Regions from separate parts of the Homo sapiens genome. Here region 1 is linked to region 2. The links come from fine-mapping of genetic effects on gene expression. A gene starts in region 2. The other region holds a variant in brackets. All regions are shown on one strand. Distances are from middle to middle.

Region 1 (5,371 bases), 66 kb after region 2:
CCTGATTCCATCAAGGGACAAGTAATCCTAAAGGATAAATTTATTACTCAGGCAGCCCCTGATATCAGGAGAAAGCTGCAGAAACAGGCCCTGGGACCAGATAGTACCTTAGAGAATCTCCTGAAAGTGGCCACCTCAGTCTTTTGTAATAAGATAGGGAGGCCCAGAAGAGAGAGAGAGGAGACACAGGCAAGAGGCAGAGGCTTTAATGGCCACCATGCAAACCCACAAACTCCAGAATCCCCAAGCTACACCTGTTAACTGCTACAGATGTGGTAAGCCAGGGCATTTTAGGAAGGATTGCCCAGGCAACATGAGGAAGCCACCCCAACCCTGTCCAATGTACAATGGGGACCACTAGAAAGTGGACTGTCCCCGGGGGCACTGGTCGCCAGGCCCAGAGCCAATCTCCCAAATGGTCCAGCAAGACTGACAAGTCCTGGGGCTCCTCTCCCTGGCTCCGGTGGTCCAGACCACCATTACCATCCAGGAGCCCCAGAATTTACAATTCTGGATATGGAAGGGAGGAAAGTGGACCTCCTTCTGGACGCTGGGGCTGGTCTCTCGGTTTTCATCTCCAATTCAAGCCCCCTGTCCTCTCTTAGCATGACTGTGAGGGGCATCCCAGGAAGGCCTTAAACCCAATATTTTTTCCAACCCCTTAGTTGTAGTTGGGGAGACCTCTTGTTCACCTGTGCCTTTCTAATTGTGCCTGAAAGGCCAAATACTCTGTTGGGTAGGGGTATTGTGGCCCGTGTAGGAACCACCATCCTGATGGCCCCAGGACAAACTCTTTGTCTCCCCTTAGTGGAGACTGATTTTAACCCAGAAGTTTGGGTAACTCAAGGGAAAATTGGCAGAGCCACAACCACCATACCAGTCTGAACCAGACACAATAGCCCCTGAAACCAGAAGTTAAGAAAAGACCAGAAGCCATCATTGATAACTTAAGGTTGCAGTACCTCCTCAAACTCTGCAACAGCCCTTGTAATACCCCAATATTGGGGGTACAAAAACCCAAAGGGGAATGGAGACTAGTTCAGGACCTTCATCTTGTTAATGAGGCTGTGGTTCCAATTCACCCAGTGGCTCCCAATCTGTATACCTTGCTAGCTCACATACCTGAGGGAACTAAAAGGTTCACAGTCCTGGACCTAAAGATATAATGGTATGCTTCTTCTGCATACTGTTATATAAACCCCCAGTATTTGTTTGCATTTGAGGATCCCTCTAACCAGACCACCCAGTTAATCTGGATAGTGTTACTTCAGGCATTCTGAAACAGCCCCCACTTTTTTGGGCAGGCACGGTCAAGAGACTTCTCCAAGTTCCTTTATCCTCAGGTGAAAGTTTTACAATATGTAGATGACATTCTCCTCTGCACTCTAACTAAAAAAATCTCTCAGGAGGGCAGTAAGGCTCTTCTTAATTTTCTGGCTAACAGAGGATGTAAGGTTTACTAATTAATGAGATAATTCCTCGCTTTGGACTCCCTAAGTACCTCCAGAGTGATAATGGCCCCTTGTTCAATGCGGCTGTCACCCAGGGGATCTCAAAGGCACTAGGCATACAGTACAATGAAGATGGTTCTTCATTGTGCTTGGAGACCACAATTCTTAGGAAAGGTAGAAAAGACAAATGATATTATCAAAAGACACCTCAGGAGACTCACCTCCCCTGGACTACCCTTCTGCCCATATCTCTACTATGTATTAGAAACACCCCTTCAAGGCTAGGTTTGAATCCCTTTGAAATGATGTATGGATGGCCTTTTCTCACCAATGATTTCTTGCTAGACCAAGAAACCTTTGATTTGGTTAAACATATCACTTCTTTGGCCCATTTCCAACAGGAACTGAAACAACTGTCAGAGAGGCACAATCCCATGAACCAGGACCACCTCTATTCAACCCTGGGGACCTAGTACTGGTAAAGGTACTTCCTTCCCTTTGTCCCTCTATAAGCCCAGATTGGGAGGGACCTTACACTGTACTTCTTTCTACTCCTATGGCAGTGAAGGTCACTGGAATAGATTCTTGGATTCATTATACCCTAGTAAGGGCCTAGGAAGCTAATGGAGTTACCTCCATTAACCCAGAAGAGCACTCAAAGTACCAATGTGAAGAGATCAGGGACCTCAAGCTAAGAATCACAAAAGATAAGTGTTAATAATTAACCTTCCATGGATATCTTCCTTAAAAGTCTTGGCTATGCTTGCTGTTCTTACCTTTGCTCTGTTCTATACCACAGGATATAATGTTGTTTTCAGAATAATTTGTATATTTTACTTCTTATTTCTGTAAACTTTGCCACTAGATTCTTTCCTTTTAACCCCTTTTTGTATAATACACATATTTGATTCATGCATACTTAACCTTGTAGAACTTGTTTCTTCTCACCTAGAGACCATCAAACTCCAAATGGTCAAGGCAAGCAGAGCCCTGGATGATGGCTCCCTTTTGCTGGGGACCCTTAGGTAGACCTCTGGGAAGAATCTGACTGCTCTTCTCCCCAAAACAATGCCCCCTCTCTGCAGGAAGCAGCTTAGATCGGTCATTGTCTGTATCCTAACAGCAGTTAGATGTGCATCTTCAGAGGGGGGAAATGATAGCTACAGGAGGCCGAGAAATTCTAGGCAGACACGGGGTTGGCGGGGGGGTCCCCGGTGAAGCCCCCCCGACTCAAGCCAAAAAGCCTGAGACCCAAAGTGAGAACTTCTATCGATGTTTTCCTGCTCAAATGTTGCCTTTTCCTAAACTACACATGGCCCTGCTCCACCCCATCCTGTCCCTATAAAGACCCCAGACTCAGCCATCAGAAAGAAGGAGCTGGACATCAGGCACTCTGGCTGAATGTCAGAGAGAAATGGCTTGACTTCAGAGGGACGGTCTGACAGCGTAACTTTGGAGAAGAATCAGCTGGAGATGGCCGGACTTCAGGGGAGGATCACTTACACCCC[C/T]CTGACCCCTTTTCAGCTCCCATTCCCACTGAGAGCCACTGAGGGCCACTTTAATCAGCCGTAAAATCCCCGCATTTACCATCCTTCAATTCATTCATGCAACTTCATTTTTCCTGGATGCTGGACTAGAGCCTGGGAGCTACGAGTGCAGATACAAAAGGCTGTCACACTGGCCCTTTGCCCTCGCTGGTGGAAGGCAGCCGCCTCATGTGAAAAGGCAGAGGGTCCACTGAGCTGTTAATGCTTAAGCCATCCATGGACAGAAGAGCTAAAAGAACACCGTAACACGCCCTCTGGGGCTTCAGGGGCCACAGGAACCCTCCTGCCTAGATGCTGCTGTGGAGCCCACACAGAGTTTGCTCCTGCCGGCGCCCAAAAGCACTCTCCCCAGATCCTGCACCCACTCACCTGTGTGCTCCCTCCTGCAAGGGGTGGTCCAAGTGAGTGAAGATCGCTCCTGCCAGCACCGAAGTGGCCAGCTGGTTCCAGCACTTGTGCACTCCAGTTCCTGCCTCATTCACTCATGCATTCCCTCCCACGGGATGTTGAGAGCTGCCGGCTGAGTAAATGAGGCACTCCTGTTGCAAATCCCGCGAAGCGGTCAGGGAAATACCCTGCTTCGCTAGAACCATCTGTCCACATTTGGGGTTCGCTCTCCTCTCTATTCTCCTCATCCTCCCTACTTCCTAGTGTGTAACACAGCCTTAGAGTTAGACCTGGGTTCACAGTCTGTCTCTGACACTTTCTAGCTGTGGAGCTTCGACCAGTTTCTTTATTCCCTGAAGCCTTTGTTTCCTCATCAGTAAGTGGAAATAATACCACTGTCACAGGCTTTTTTGCAAGAATTAAACGAGACACTATGAATAAGTGCCTGGCTGTTAGTAAGTTTTCAGTTATTGGTAGCTGTCCTCACCAACTCCCTGGTTAGACCCCTTTCCTTCACTTCTCACATCTGATTGCTTCCCAAGTTTTTTCAAGCCTGTCTTTCTTCAATCTGACCCTTCTCTGTTCTCAGAGACCCTTTCTAGGTCCTCAACCTATTGTATTTTGCTCATTCTCCTTGGATTTTTTTTGCCTTTGGTCTTATCCACTCCAATCTCTCTCTTTTTTTTTTTAATTTGTTTTGTTTTGTTTTGTATTTAGAGACAGAGCCTTGCTCTGTTGCCCAGGGTGGGGTGCAGTGGCATGAACGTAGTTCATTGCAGCCTGGAACTCCTGGGTCAAGCAATGCTCCTGCCTTTGCCTGCCAGGTAACTGGGACTACAGGTGTGTGACACCCATCTGGCTACTTAAAAATTTTTTTTGTACAGATGGGGTCTTGCTTTGCTGCCGAGGCTGGACTTGAATTCCTGGGCTCAAACGATCCTCCTGCCTCAGCTTCTCAAAGTGCTGGAATTACAAAAGCGTGAGCCCCCACACCTGGCCCCAATCTTTGTTTTTGCAGCAGTAGTTTTCAATCTTTTTAAAATTAATATCTCTAGATAAATCTTTAAACAGAAGAAAGCACTCTTCTGTAATCAGGGATAGGATATGGAGTCCCAAACACCTCCCTGGATCCCTCATTCACTGCAGCCCTGCGAAGCTCCACCAGGATCCCTTAGGGCATTGAGAAAGTCATTTTTGCCACCCTATTGCTGCCAGCGGTGATGTTTCTGAACATGTGGATCTGACAAGTTCACTCCTCTGGTGAATTTCTCCAGGGTTCACTAGCACCTCACGTAGAGGTTCCTAACCTGGGTATTGCCCTCTCTAGTCAACCTCCAACTTCACATGATGTTGTAGATATATATTTTTTAAACATGGCTCTGATTGTGTCACCCATGGCTCAGCATGGCGGTAAAGGCCCTTCACAGTGTGGCTCCAGCCTCTCTTTCTGCAAGGCACCTCTACTTCACCCATGCCAGGCCTGGCACTGCTTCCCCACTGCCTTTTTTCTTTGCCCTTGCACCTCTTTTTGCTGCATGCTAAGTCACCGCTTGTGTCCTCCTGCCTGAATTCCTCTTTTTCCCAGGAGACTCAGGCTAGGGTGGGGAGAGTCTTGCTAAAGCCCTAAGCAAGGAAGATTGATTTCCAGGAGTGTAGACAGGCTAACATGGGCAATTCAGGCCTTCACCTTTATCTGTGTAGATAATGTTTCAGACACACGGAATAGTCCAGGTGTCAAATTCCTTGTGGAAAGAAAACTTGACATTGATCTACTGTCAAATGGTTGCTTTGGTTTTTCGAATAGTTAAGATAGACATAATCAAAGATCACATCATTCGGCAAATTTTTATTTATTAAATACCAAAATTTGGTTCCCTTTTAACTACATGCCTAATCCTACTTCCTTTCTCAGCCAGAATTGTAAACCTTATTTTATTCTGGCTTTGCCTGGGTAGTCCCACCATTGTCTTCCAACATTCTCAGGGG
Region 2 (5,371 bases):
CAACTATCCAAATACAAAAGGCTAAATTTGCCATTCTTCGAGATACTGCTTCTACATTTACTTGAACTACGTAAAGAGATATGAAGAGGCTAATAGCTGCCAGTAAAAGAAAACAGGCTACTTTTATCAAGTCTTTGATATGTGATCGGTTCTTATGCATATATAACCCTGTTTGCACACCAGCCATGTGTATTGCCACATACCCCAGGGTAGAGATTATTCCTTCGCGGTTGGCATTTAATAGACCAACCCGTGTGCCACTACCATCAGTGCCATATAATATTAACCTCTTCAGTGAGGTAAAGTCAAGGGCTAGCTGGTATAATACAGTAATGCCGAGGGCAATAATCCAGGACTTATTTAGGGGAAAAATAATCAACAGCAGTGGTGTTATCAATTTCACAACTATTATGGTAAAGAAAAAGTTCCAGTGAACTCCATACTCTGTTAAATGTTCCTGATAGCCTATTGATTTTATAATGGCTAATCGTCCGATTCCTAGGAAGACTAATGGCCAAACAGAGTACAATGAGTTTGTAAAGTAATGCAATTTGGACCCTTCCATATATTTTCTCCTCCTGACCTCTAGACAAACCATTGCAGACCCAAAAACAAAGCCACCTACTCCAAAATCCATTGCTCCTGTCCCATAGAGCTCAGTTTTGGCAAATCTTCTGGGAAAAAGTGGGAAGTCCACAGCCAAAATAGCAATAGCAGTAAACGCACTGGTAATTACACGGAAACAGGAGATGGCTGGATTGTATTCTGATTCTAGACTGATGTTCAAGAATTTTTCAAGGATTTTTAGGAAAGGCAGTCTGGCATAGCAGGTCCTCCTTCGGTATATTTGATACAACAGCCCTGCCCCAAAGATAATTACACCGAGAAGCTCAAGGAGGATAAATGAAGCCCAAATGGTCAAAGTGGCTACCATGGGAACTATTAGGACAACAAAGTCAGTGAGGAATCTAGTTTTCCAGGTAGGTGAAAAAGAACACAAGTACTGTGAGAAAATGATCAGGAACCCTCTGCACAGGATACAGAATGCAGGAAAGCACAATCCCTGGGTGATTTCCAGCACGGTGGTTCCATTGAGGTTACTGACAAAAGCTTCCTTCATCTGCTTTTCAGACATTTTTCTTCCTGTGAAAACAAGAGCAAAGGAATGGATTTGTGAAAAGCAGCATTCTTGTGTAATTAGCATACCTGGCTTAATTTTACTCTTATTACTAGATTTCAGAGCAGAACTTTGGGCCCTAATGAGTTCACCTAGGATTTGTGATTCCCCTTCCAAGGATTGTGGGAAGAAGCTTAACACTAATGTGTTCAGATAGAAATGTCATACTAATAATATTAAATTATTGGTTACAAAGCTTCAGCTATTCCCTGTACAAGACAGACTCACAAAGAAAGTGAATTTGGGGCCAGGCGTGGTGGCTCACACCTGTAATCCTAGCACTTCGGGAGGCCGAGGTGGGAGGATCACCTGAGGTCAGGAGTTCGAGACCAGCCTGGTCAACATGGTGAAAGCCCGTCTCTACTAAAAATACAAAAATTAGCCAGGCGTGATGGCACCCGCCTGTAATCCCAGCTACTTTAGAGGCTGAGGCAGGAGAATCGGTTGAACCGGGGAAGCAGAGGTTGGAGTGAGCCATTGCACTCCAGCCTGGGCCACAGAGTGAGACTCCATCTCAAAAAAAAAAAAAAAAAAAGGAAAAGAAAAAGCAAAGGAAAAGAGAGCGAATTTGGGATATAAACTCTGAGAATGGCATCATAGGCAGATGGGAATTTCTATTATGGAGCACAGTACGTATCATGAAGATTCTTTGATGCAAATTGAATAGGATTTACTAATGACCTTAAAGCAAATTCAAACGCTAGGGGCCAAGTACATTTTGAAGTTGGGGGCCTTGGTTCCAGTTCAGAGCCTCTCCAAACCTACTGCCTTGGTACAAAACGTGACCCCTGCAGTGATTTCTGGATCCCCAGGCTGCTCCTTTCCTCATTTACAGACAGCTATGTTTTCAGGTTAGGATGGAAGTAGGTACGGTGGGTGCATTAAGAATGGATGTATAGCACATACTAGTGTTAGTTGCTCTTTTATTAAGGGTTGTAAAACACCTCTGAATGCCACACATCATTGTCTGAAAAACGGCATACTGGAAGAACACATTTGTTGGTTAAACATGAACCTAGAGTTTCTAAATGTACCATGAGCTGAATAAGTAAGTGAATGCATGCGTGCATTATGGCCTGTCTGGAACCTGTGACAATATCTCACAGTAACCAACTCAAATCAGTTGACCATTAAAAATAAAAGTCCTAGCCGAGAGAAGTGGTTCATGCCTGCAATCCTAGCGCTTTGGGAGGAGAGAGGATCGCTTAAGGCCAGGAGTGAAAAAAAAAAAAAGAAAAATTAAAAATTAGCTGAGCGTGGTGGTGCGCGCCTGTAATGCCAGGCTGAGGCGGGAGGATCGCTTGAGCCCAGAGGTGGAAGGCAGCAGTGAGCCGAGATCGCGCCACTGCACTCCTACCTGGGCGACAGAGCGAGACTCCGTCTCTTAAAAAATAAACATAAAAATAAAAAGTCTTTTTCCTAACAGACGCCCGACCTGGCCGCGCCCTACCCGTATACCTCACGTACTCCAAATGGTGCCGGCGCCCCCAGCAGACGGTCTACGTGGGAAGGGCAGCCGGACTGCCGCTGCACCCGCCAAACCACGCGGGAACCAGCCGCTTCCGCCTCCCGCGCGGCACTTCCGGCCGACGCAGGCAGCTGGCACTTCCGGGCCGGCCGATTCCGCGCGTCTCCGCCCATCATGGCGCTCGTGCCAGTGTCCCGTGGGCTACCCACTCCTGTCATGTCCTTTGGGCTGGTGCAGGCCAGATCTTCTAGGGCCGTAGCCCTGAGAGGAGCGCCTGGAGAGGAAACGGCGCGCCATGCACCTCACACGGCCCCTCAGACCTCACGGCGAGGCCCTATCAGGGTAATGGTGTCCGCCGGCCTCGCACAACACTCCGCCGCACTCGCACAAGACTCCGCCGCGGCGACCTCTACTGAAAGACCCCCAGTCCTGGTGTCGCCCGAAGGCCCAGGAAACCGTGCTTCCGCGCTTCTCCCCCAGAACGTGGGAAGCTGCCGCTTTACCCTCATTTTACCCCAGGGTCGCAAAACATCTCACCGTAGTTGAAGCCAGCAAGCCGGACCAGGCGTCCCGGCCAAGCCACGTGCGCGCCCCGCGCCGCGAGTGCTCGCCCCGCCCCTAGGGAGGAGCCGGCCGACCCCCGGCCACTTAGCAGTGCCGCAGCCGACGGGGTGCGGTTCGGCGCTCCCAGGTTCCTTTCCTCACTGCACGCTCTTGCCCCTCCTCTTTTCTCTCCTGCCCGTGTTCTTCCCGCCGCCTGACCTGGCCCGCCCGCCTTTCCAGTCTGGCCGGGCGGGGGCCTGAAGCACGGCGGCTCGGGCCGTGGGACCGGTGAGTGTCAACCCGAACCTATATCTGAAGCCCTTCAGACGCGGAAGGGGCTTGGGAGGCCAGTTTGCCCCGCAGCGGTGAGGAAGAAGTAGGCGTCTCCACCTCCCCTTCCAAAGCGCCGTTTCCCTCCTTTTTGCCTTTTCCTTTTGACCCTCTTGTGTCTCACGAGGGGGTAGCCCAGCTCTTGGCTCTTGCTTGAAACAAGTCTTTCTTGATCACCCTCCACCTTTCCACCTGGCCGGCAGGGGGCGGCCTGGGGGGAGAGGGTCCTTGCTCCACTCTTCGCCCAGCTGAGGACCCCGGGAGGGGGCGGCTGGTCCCGGGAGGTGTCAGGGCAGCTGCGCCCTTGGCTGGGGTCACGTCCACCTTCCTGGGAAGGACATACTCTCCCCGTGCCAGGTGCTTCCGGAACGGCATCCCAGCCCTGGGTTTGCGGCACGACGCCCGGACCTTGAGTCCCCGGTTCCCGCCGGGAACCTGGGGGCGGAGCCAGCTGGACTGATGAGATCCTTACCCAGCGCTTCTCAGCGTCTGCCCTCCCACTGTCCTCCATGCCTAGAAAGAAACAGTCTGAGAAGGAGGGACTGGTGATCAGGTTGCCACTTGCCTTGATTCGGTGTTCCATTTACTCATTACCGTCTCCTTTCTGCCCACAGTGTTCACACCCTTTCCAGAAATTCTTGGCTGGTAACCGCGAAACCGACTGGAGCAGGAGCTGGGAGAACTGGAGAAAACTGCTCTAATCTCACTTGACTCCAGCTAGGAGCTGATGCTGCATCGTAATAACATTTGCAGAGCGCTTTCACAGGTATTAGCCCCTTTAACGCTTCATTTAGCCCCGTGAGATCTGGATATTATCACTCCGTTTTGTAAACGAGGAAACAGAGTGAGGCTTAGTTCTTGGGTTCTGTGCCAGGGGCCTTGGGTTTTGGATTCAAACCCCAAACCTGTTGTGCTGCCCCTCTGGACCTATTGCTTGAGATGAGTTCCCAGTTGAAAGAGCTTTGTTCTCTGGAGCCCTCTGCATGGCTGTCCCTTGGATGGGGTACAGTCAGTGTCCAGGGTCAGGATCTTTTAGGGCTGTAGCACCACACCTTAAGTGGTCCAGCACGGTCCTGATACCTGTTTCCGCCTCAATTGTCCTTTTTCCAGCTTCTATGGAAGTCCCTATCCCTGGGTTCTTTAAAGACTTGATGTATTCAGAGCCTCAAGAAAGTCTCCACCAGGGTTAATCCATTGCAGGCACGCTTCACCCTCAGCCTCATCTCTCCTTGCTAGGGGTGGTGCCAAGGCCTAGAAAATTCCAAGTCTGAGGGTCACTTAACCATTCTTCAAAGATTGGCTTAGGCCCAGCCTCACAACACCCCACCTCCCAGATGGATTCATCTCCCTGAAATCCTCACCTTCTTGAAGTTGACACTGGACCGTTCACCTGATTAGCGCTCCCAAATGGATCATCAACCCTTAGTCGTAGTGCTAACAGTGTTTATCCTCTGAGTGAATACTCAGATTCGTACTTTGTGTGGTGCTGTCAAACCATGACCTCATTGACCTTCACAACCACTCCTTATGAGGCAGATTTAACTGTCCCCATTTTCAAGGTAAGAAATTGAGGTAGGTGATGTGCCTGACCCAGGATCACACACCCAGTGAGTGATTGAACTGTGATATAAACTACCACACCACACCTTTCCTGGAGCAGCGAGAGATGACTCCAGCCTCTCCTCCTCACCAACGACTGAAATAGGATATTTCTGTCTAATGTAGAGGATAGGGCACAAGGCTTCTCTGTCTCCCCAGTGTCTTACTCCTCCTCCATGGCACACTGACCCAGAGGGTTTGCAGCCCCACCCCAACCCAAACCCTAACCCTGTAATAAAACTGGCCCAGGGAGC

Evidence for each region. PIP is the estimated chance that this variant, and not a neighbour inherited with it, causes the effect.
Region 1: its variant is fine-mapped to the expression of MYO19 in blood mononuclear cells (TOPMed, PIP above 0.99).

What each region holds. Positions count from the first base shown.
Region 1 is chr17:36,467,203-36,472,573 of GRCh38, reverse strand. No RefSeq gene overlaps it. Among named protein-coding and RNA genes, the nearest start is that of ZNHIT3, 17 kb to the left of the region's middle. The variant C/T (reference allele first, on the strand shown) is at 2,960.
Region 2 is chr17:36,532,866-36,538,236 of GRCh38, reverse strand. MYO19 (myosin XIX) reads left to right here and starts at 3,369. Exons shown (of 26, transcript NM_001163735.2): 1 at 3,369-3,476; 2 at 4,133-4,284. PIGW (phosphatidylinositol glycan anchor biosynthesis class W) reads right to left here and starts at 3,250. Exons shown (of 2, transcript NM_001346754.2): 1 at 2,645-3,250; 2 at 1-1,143. The coding sequence starts at 1,135. RefSeq lists an enhancer at 4,003-4,678.